3 linked regions of the Homo sapiens genome follow. The protein of the gene in region 1 purifies or fractionates together with the protein of each later gene. This does not show direct contact. Each region holds a gene or a part of one and is shown on either strand. Other genes may lie near its edges.

The links.
Region 2: the proteins of THY1 (region 1) and TIAL1 fractionate together in Homo sapiens (co-fractionation; one large-scale study listed by BioGRID). This does not show direct contact.
Region 3: the proteins of THY1 (region 1) and MFN2 purify together in Homo sapiens (affinity purification with mass spectrometry; one large-scale study listed by BioGRID and IntAct). This does not show direct contact.

The regions. Positions count from the first base shown.
Region 1 is NC_000011.10:119,414,887-119,417,643, reverse strand, and holds the end of THY1 (thy-1 membrane glycoprotein isoform 1 preproprotein), read left to right. Parts: 3' UTR 1-2,168; downstream 2,169-2,757. UniProt on the Homo sapiens protein: May play a role in cell-cell or cell-ligand interactions during synaptogenesis and other events in the brain.
Region 2 is NC_000010.11:119,572,843-119,576,500, reverse strand, and holds the end of TIAL1 (nucleolysin TIAR), read left to right. Parts: intron 1-688; coding exon of another isoform or gene 689-709; coding exon 710-836; 3' UTR 837-3,036; downstream 3,037-3,658. UniProt on the Homo sapiens protein: RNA-binding protein involved in alternative pre-RNA splicing and in cytoplasmic stress granules formation. Shows a preference for uridine-rich RNAs.
Region 3 is NC_000001.11:12,011,405-12,014,127, forward strand, and holds the end of MFN2 (mitofusin-2), read left to right. Parts: intron 1-91; coding exon 92-161; 3' UTR 162-2,104; downstream 2,105-2,723. UniProt on the Homo sapiens protein: Mitochondrial outer membrane GTPase that mediates mitochondrial clustering and fusion. Mitochondria are highly dynamic organelles, and their morphology is determined by the equilibrium between mitochondrial fusion and fission events.

The sequences.
Region 1 (2,757 bases):
AGGCCCATCCCTGGCTCCTTCCCTAAAAGTAGAGTAAAATGGAAGCGAGCATCCTGGGATTGGGGGCAAGAGGGGGACCGCAGGGTAGCTGTGGGTTCCAACTGCTGTCAGAGTCAGAGAGGCAGCCCCAAGCCAGCCTCCCTGCTTTGCCAGGGAATTTGGGGGAGGAAGGTGACAGCTGCCCAGAGGCTGACTCATCTGATATTTAGCACTGGGTAGGATGATTGTTTCTGAGCATTTTTCTTAAAGGCCTCAGATCTAAATTATGCCACCGGCTCCCACTCTTGCTACCTCCCGTCAACTTCTCTGCCTTGCCTTCCACCCCTGTAGTTACCATACACAGAGGAGGAGGAGCTGTCCTTGTCCCAGGTTGGGAGGCTGACAACCCCTTAGCAAGATGCTGCCAGCCCAGAGCTCTCCAAGGGGAGGAACACCCCTGAGACTCAGGCCCCTCTCCTTCAGCCCTGCTTGGGCTGCAAGCGCCGTGCCAAGGAAAGGCATCTTGGTGAGAAGAGCTGCTGTGGGGGAAGGGAGATCAAATGCCAGAGAAATGTGGGGTGCCCCACCCTCAGGATAGTAAAAGAGTATGGAGGTATTTCTGGAAGGAAATGAGCGGCACTGTGTGAAGCCTCGCACCTGTGTGACACTTCCTATGGGGTCTTTGTCACACTCTAGTACTATGTCCCTGAAGAGTTTAGCAGCCACACTCTTAGAAGGGTGCTGGGAGATGGTGTTGCCCTCTGCAGCCATGTTTAGGGGAGCGGAACCTGAGGCCCACAGTGGGTGAGATTAGCTCAAGAAGCCACAGAGGCCACCAGAGGGCCACGGACTTCGGAAAGGAGAAGAGAAGAACAGGGCATCAGGCCTCACAACGCAAACCTACCCAGAGATGGGCACAGTGGCTCATGCCTGTAATCCCACCACTTTGGGAAGAGGCGGATCGCTTGAGGTCAGGAGTTCGAGACTAGCCTCGAAACCCTATCTCTACTAAAAATACAAAAATTAGCCAGGCATGGTGGCCTGCGCCTGTAATCCCAGCTACTCAGGAGGCTGAGGCAGGAGAATCACTTGAACCCGGGAGGCGGAGGTTGCAGTGAGCCAAGATTGCACCACTGCACTCCAGCCTGGGAGATAGAGTGAGACTCCATCTCAAAAAAATAAAAAATAAAATAAACCTACCCGGAATGACCATGCTGAGGACTGGGAGCCCGCAGACTTTCAGCCACAGGCCGCGACAGCCGTGGGTCCCTCCCTGGTCAAGTCAGCAGGCCTTGTGGAGGCTGTGGGGTATCTGTGGTGACTCAGGTAATTATAGAGGGCTGGCCCCCAGCCCTGGTTCCTGTACACATGCCCCAACCCCATCCCCATCCACTCCCTCGCCAGTCCTAACCTCTTTCCTGGGTCCCCCCCCTTCAGCACCTAAGTCCATACCTAGGGCCGTGGAATTCCCGCTCAAGAGCAACAGAAGCCCCTCTCTGCACCCCCATTTCTGGACTGGATTGTCCACTGAGACGCGCAATGTCTGCATCTCTGACATCTAGAGGCTTCCTCGGGAAGGGCATGGGGATCTCCGTGAGATGTGGGGACTTTCACTGGCCAACCAAGAAATCTACACAGCGTCCGGGGACCTGTGACACACATCCCTCCCGCCTCCTCAACCTGATGTCCCTCTCTGAATCTGCAGCTTTCGTGCTGTGAAGGTGTCTTTACATGTGAAACAAACAAACCCAAGTCAAGAGTAAATCATCTCATTTACTAGTGAGAAAATGTTGGAGCTGGAGTCCTTCAGAGAGTCCTGGCCAGGCAAGAGGGCCATCAGCTCTCTTCTGCTCAACAGGGGCTCTCAGCCTCAGGACACTCTCAGGCCTGGAATGTCCCCAACACACTCAAGGAGAAACATGTCCTGTGCAGACCCACAGGAGGCATCTTTGCCCGGCACAAGGAAGAGCTGGGGTCAGTGGGACCTGTAGATGTAGACACATCATATGGAGGGTGGGTAGGACCAATGTGGCAGCTTCATGGAGGCCAAGTGTGGCTCTGCACCAGGAAGGGGCTGTGATGGCTGGAGGTGCCCAGCAGTGCAGGCGGGGAGTGCCTGGCAGTGGCGTGGCCAGGTGGAGGCCACCTGTCAAGTTTGCAATAAAGCAGTTTCCTGAATTTGGTGAGAACATGGACTAGAGGACTCTAGCCTCTTCCCCCTTTAGGGTTTCACTTCAGTAAGTCTTAAAATTAGAGTGTGGTGACTCACGCCTGTAATCCCAGCACTTTGGGAGGCCAAGGCAGGTGGATCACTTGAGGTCAGGAGTTTGAGACCATCCTGGCCAACATGCAGAAACCCTGTCTCTACTAAAAAAAAAAAATAAGTAAATAAATAAAAATTAGCCAGGTGTGGTGGTGCACGGCTGTAATCCCAGCTACTTGGGAGGCTGAGGCAGGAGAATCACTTGAACCCAGGAGGCGGAGGTTGTGGGCCGAGATCATGCCACTGCACTCCAGCCTGGGTGGCAGAGTGAGATTCAGTCTCAAAAAAAAAAAAAAAGGATTAGAGCTTGGTGCAGTGGCAGCCACCTGTAATCCCAACTTCTTGAGAAGCTGAGATGGGAGGCCCCCCTTGAGCCCAGAAGTTTGAGGCCAGCCTAAGCAACACTGTGAGACCTTGTCTCAAAAAAATAATAAAAACAATAATTCTTAAAATAAGCTGACTGGGCTGAAATCATGTATTTGTACAACAAACATTAAGCATCTAAATGCACCTGG
Region 2 (3,658 bases), on another chromosome or scaffold:
CATTATGAGCATTATAGAAACTAATCTAACAAAATATGATTTATGAGGCTAAGAAATTACTTCTCATTACCTAGGTGGAAAGGGGGGATTGGGGTAACATTTAGTGTGTCCTATGATCCCTGTAAGCAGTTGGTAGAATTTGATTTACATTTCTGATACACTTTTATTTATTTTTGCATGTAAAAGATCTTTGTCCAGATATATTCAAAAGTTTGATGGTTTTATGCCTATGTGGTATGTGTGAGAAATCTGAGGTTTGTGTGATACAAAGTAACTGGCCTTTTTTTTTTTTTTTTTTCTTTTGTTGATAGAGTGGTTTCCTCCTTTGTAATTCCCCTGCCCAGGGCCAGCCCATAGCTTTATTTTCAGATTTCTTCCTTTGAGACTGTTTCCAACATGAACTTGTTTTTAAAATTTCTTATGTAATAGATGATGTGTTGAATCATTCACAATTTTTAAAAAATTAGTTTGCAGATACTCCTCAGACATCAGTGTGTTAAGTTGTGGTTATCTTAAAAATATCAAAGACTAATACTGGAATATGTATTCTACACATATATCATTTATTTCTTTGATCTTTCTATTTGTTGTAGGTGTGTTGATTTCTGGTTTTCTATTCTGTGATTAGGCTCTGCTTGATTTTTGTGTAAATACATATGTGATTTTTTTTTTCTTGTGTTTGCTGAAGATTTTTTCTTTTTCTTCCAAGTCAATCACCTTCTGCTGCTTGGATGGGTGGATTTGGTGCTCAGCCTCCCCAAGGACAAGCTCCTCCCCCTGTAATACCTCCTCCTAACCAAGCCGGATATGGTATGGCAAGTTACCAAACACAGTGAGCCGGGACTCTAAAAAAAAATTGTAATTCATGATAGGCTTCGATTTCCTGTGACACTCTGAAGACATGAAAGTAGACATCGGAAAATGAAAATATTTATTTTAAAAATTGAAATGTTTGGAACCTTTAGCACAGATTTGCTTTGGTGAAGGACACGTGTCTTCTAGTTCTGCCTTTTTAAGTTTTTGTTCATGATGGATATGAACATGATTTTTCTTTATGTACAAAAACTAAAATAAAGTCAATAAAGACAATTCTGACTACAAATTTTGATATAATAGGAAAAATGGCTAATACATTTTGATTCTTAGATACTATTCCATTTTTATCTTGCTGTTCAGTATTTTAACTCACTGTGTTTTTAAAAGAGCAAAAAAGGGAGGATCGTGAAAACCTGGGAATCACATATAAGTTCATCCTGAATCCTGATACTCCCCTCCCCTTCCCTGAGGTGGACCACATTTGAAGTCAGCAGAGAAAAAGTGTGATATTCAGAAGAAATGCGTGATTTTGGAGTCGCTTTGGAGGAAATATTTTCTTTCTCTATGCCTAAAGAAACTGAAGCCAGACTGAAGTTTTGCACCCTAAAAAAGGAACAGCATTGTTTGAGTTACTTGAGCAAATGTTGGTGGTCCACGTTAAGACATATTTTTAAAACTTCCAAAAGTGTCGATTATTAAAATTGTAGTATTTTACATTTCATTTTGGGGGGAAATCCAAGTATGGTGTTTGTATTGAAGTCAGACAGTCATACTTGTGCTTTTACATGAAGTTTAAATGATACATATTGTAAATATTCAATAACTACAGTGTTTAAAAAGCATGCTTCAACATAGAAGTAGCAGCAATGTAATTATTTGAAGTAACACTTAACACACTCCGCTGCATTGAATGCAGTGGATTGATCAGAATGTTAAGACTGACATTTCCAAGGTTGGCTACTATGTAAAATTAAAATTACACAAATTGTGCAGAAAAAGCCTTAATTTTAATTTCATACAATCTTTGATGCATTAGTATGTTCTAAAATGTCATTGGGAATTAGTTTTTTGTTTTTGTTTTTTTTTTTTTTTTTTTTTGCTTTACATTACTTGGTATGTAAATACCTTGATTAAAACCTTGTAAACCAATTTCAAGGTTACTATAAGTTGTATAGTACAAGTGTTTTTTAAAAATCTTGGGGTGTTTTTAAAAATTAAGATATATTTTGCCCAAGAATTTTTTTAACAAGATTGCTAAAAACATCTTATTTAGACACTTCAATGTACCAATTTATAATTGGATATTCAGTTTAAATAGTACACAGAGTTGTGGCTTTTATTTTCAATTAATTTTTTTCCTTGTGGGCAGTGTGCATGGTATAATAAGCCTGAGCAGAGGCTTAAGTTGTATGTGTGCAGAGTTTGTAAAGGAATCAATTGGAAGATGCAGAAGACCGAGGTTTGCTTTCAAGGTATTTTTCAGGCTGTGTGGGTAAAATTTGCCTCAAATTTCTATCAAACAGGAATGTAAAATAGATAAAATCCTATGTATTTGAATTGTCAGAGCTAGGGAGTGCAAATGTTTTGGCAATGTATTCAAAATGCTGGCCTGGGCACCAAAGAGAAAATAGCCTTTTACAGTTACATAGTAAGATGCGATTAGTACCCACAAATTACTGTTTTCTAAACATTTGAAGTTTTACGATTAGCTTTAAAATAATGATTTTATAAATTGGTGGTCACAATAATTTTGGTATTACTTTCCTCCTTTTCCCACTTAGCAATATAGCCAAATGTATTCAACATAAAAATTCATAGGGTCTGAAATTCATAGCTGGGCCAAATTTTTTATGGCACCTTAGTTTTACCATAATGGTCATCTATTACACTCTTCTGTTATAAAATATACCCTTATTTCTTTTGTTTATAGTATCTTTGAGGAATGTTTTTGGAAAAGTTAATTTATATTTTATAGGGAGAACACTCAATAAATTATGTTAACTGTGCCCCCGAGTTAAAAATTTTATGAGTATATGTGAAACTTGAACAACTGAAGACTTTTTTTAATTGATAAAAATGCTTAGTATGCCTGTTTTGGTCTGCCAGTAAATTAAGTAGCTTATTGAGATAACTAACAGCTAAATATAGCTGTAGTGTTTCCTGACTGTATATTCTATGATTTAATAAAATTATCCAGACTAGTTATATTGCCACAGTAAACATGTGACTGAAGTGTCCTTCATCTTAATCTGAAAGAGGGCAAAATTTCATGATCAGTTAATGGAAGTTATTTCATATTAAGTGGTTTTTTTTTTTTTTTTTTTTTAGATGGAGTCTTGCTCTGTCGCCAGGCTGGAGTACATGTAGTGATGAGAACTTGGCTCACCGCAACCTCTGCTTCCCAGATTCAAGCGATTCTCCTGCCTCAGCCTCCTGAGTAGCTGGGATTACAGTCACGTGCCACCATGCCCAGCTAATTTTTTTGTGTTTTTAGTAGAGATGGGGGTTTCACCATGTTGGCCAGGATGGTCTCGATCTCCTCACCTCGTGATCCGCCCGCCTCAGTCTCCCAAAGTGCTGGGACTACAAGCGTGAGCCACGGTGTCTGGCTTTTTTTTTTTTTTTTTTTTGAGACGGAGTCTTGCCCTGTCGCCAGGCTGGAGTGCAGTGGTGCAATCTCGGCTCACCGCAACCTCCGCCTCCTGGGTTCAAGCTATTCTCCTGCCTCAGCCTCCCGAGTAGCTGGACTACAGATGCATGCCACCATGTCTAGTAAATTTTTGTATTTTTAGTAGAGACAGGGTTTCACCATGTTGGCCAGGATGGTCTCAATCTCCTGACC
Region 3 (2,723 bases), on another chromosome or scaffold:
TGTCAAGCGTCCTTAGGATGGTGCCTGGCGGGTAGTCCTAATACTGCCTATCATCAGCTATCATGGTTACAAAAGAACCATTTCTTTGCAGGAATAAAGCCGGTTGGTTGGACAGTGAGCTCAACATGTTCACACACCAGTACCTGCAGCCCAGCAGATAGTGGGCACCTGAGGCGGAGTCTGCGTGGAGAGGGGCGGTGCTGCCAGCCCTAAGTGCCATGTGGGCTCCCCCAGGGGCACGTGTGGCTCCTGCCCCCTGGCCACTGCCAAGAGAATGAAGCACCCAGTCTCGTACCATTTTGAGCCCTCCAGCACTACTTATTTTCCCCCACCTTTGCCTGCTGTTGCTGGAAGAGCTGGCTCATACCCCCAAAGGACACTTTCAGCGACAGCTATGGACAGCATGGTACCAAGGAGTTAAGTTGAGGCTTTTTCCAGCTTTCTCTGGTTCATTTGATTGCTTGATAAGGCCTCAGGATCTCAGCATTGCACAATGCCTCATGGAAGCCTTTGAGGGTATCACACAGACACCCCCACCTTCCTCCAGCCTGTGCGCACCTGCCCTCCTTGCAGCCCAGCACACCTGCAGGTGTAAGGGACGATTGGAGTTTCTTCCCAGAGAGTCTGTCCCAGAAGGACTGTGGCTTGTGTGTGTCCATCTCGCCTGTTGGCTCAGTGCTTCATCCCATTTGCAGAGCCTCAGACACGTCTTGGTGGTGAGGCTCAGTTACCCCTGGGCTTAGGCTGAGGCGGGCCCTGTGCTGGGGGTGGTAGAAAGGATGCTGCTGAGGCAGCTGGAGGAGTGGGAGTAGCTCAGAGGGGAGGGCTGTTGGATGTATGGGGAGCTGGCAGAGCAGGTGGCAGTCACTGGGACAAGGAGGGACTTGCCTCTCTTCTCATTATTGTGTCCTTTGCTTTAGTGTCAGTCCTGGACTTGTGCAGGCCTGTTTTGTGTAGATCTGTTTTGGAAGATGGCATGGTCTAGGTGGTTGAAGGATGTAGTAGAAGGATGGATGGTGGAAGGTGGGGACGTTGGTGGCTGGCTGAGGTGCATGGGCCCCACACAGGACAGCTGGAGAATGGGCCGTCCACTTGGCCTCGTTCTGCGAGGGGCTCATGGGTCTGAGAGCCCCCACCCACTAGGCTTGATTGCATCCCTGTTGTGCCCTTTAAGAGACATGTTTCCACCCCACCCCCAACCTTGTCCCAAGTGCCCTGGACTAAATTTCCTGTGCCAGTGACTGCAGTTGGCCAAGGGACAATGTGGAAAACCCAGTGTCCATCTTTCCACCCTCCCTGATCTCCAGAACCTTCGACTGACCCCCTTGTCTTTATGCTGATGTTGAGTTTTGGGATTGTTACTGGTTGAAGTGGGGGCAGATGCCTGTCACCAAGGTGTTGACTGTGTGAGAAAAGCAGTTTGGGTGACAAATCCTGTGTGGCACAAGTTGGATCGCTTCCTAGAAATAAGCAACACCTCTCCCAAAAAGCAGCCCACAAGGCAGGGGCCCAGCAGCCCAGCCATCACTCATCTTTGAGGAAATGAGTTGGTAGCCTCTGTGCACTGTTTGGTGGCCACATCACAGGTGATGTCCTGTTCACATACCTGCTTGTATTTAAAGCCCTCAGTCTGTCCTGTTGTGTGGGGCGAAGTGATGGACTCTGCCAGGTGGACATGCTGTGGGTGGATGTTCCCGGCGTGTGCCGGGCCTGAATGGACAGGGGCCACTTCACAGCATGTCAGGGAAAATCACTGTCACACAATTCCAATGGATTTTGTGCTCTTTTTGAAAAAAAAAAATTCTTTAGCGTAAACATGAATTTTTTTTCAATGTAGCCCCTGGGGAATGAATGAAATTTTGAGCTTCTTCAATACGTAAAATTAAATTTATACCACTGAGGGAGAGACCCTTTCTGAAAGAAGTATGGCCAAAAGCACTTTAATGCTGCTGACATTGTTGTTTTTATGTTCATTTGCTGGAGCGCAAGACGTGCTGACACAGTGAGTTTTCTCTGATGTATTTAAGGTGATGTATTTGCTTGAGTTACTCCTGTATCATTGCTCATAATATTGGAAACTAAAATAAAACCTAGTTGGAAATCCTTTGTGAGATCTGTCTTTTTGGGTTCTTGTACAAACTCCTCTTTGACATGGCCAGCTGTATTCTGAAGTGACCATAACTTTGGGGAAGTTCCCACTATAATCTGGCTCCTTATTCTTGGAAGGAATTTGATACTCTCAAAAGAACAGATGGTTTAACTGATCTTTAAGGATCAGGAAATCGAGACTGATTTCTTTACAGATTTCTCTGTAACTCCAGACCATTTTTCACTTAAAAAGTAAATGACTCACTGTTCCATCCTGCTTTGCCTTCTGAGAATTTGGTTGCCACTATTCTTTTTTTTTTTTTTCTTTTTTGAGATGGAGTCACGCTCTGTCGCCCAGGCTGGAGTGCAGTGGCACGATCTCGGCTCGCTGCAAGCTCCGCCTCCCGGGTTCAAGCAGTTCTCTGCCTCAGCCTCCCAAGCAGCTGGGATTACAGGCGCCGACCACCAGGCCTGGCTAATTTTGGTATTTTAGTAGAGACAGGGTTTCATCATCTTGGCCATACTGGTCTCAAACTCCTGACCTTGTGACCCACCTGCCTCGGTCTCCCAAAGTGCTGGCATTACAGGTGTGAGCCACCGCTTTTTTTTCTTTTTTTTTTTAAGGGTCCTCAGGA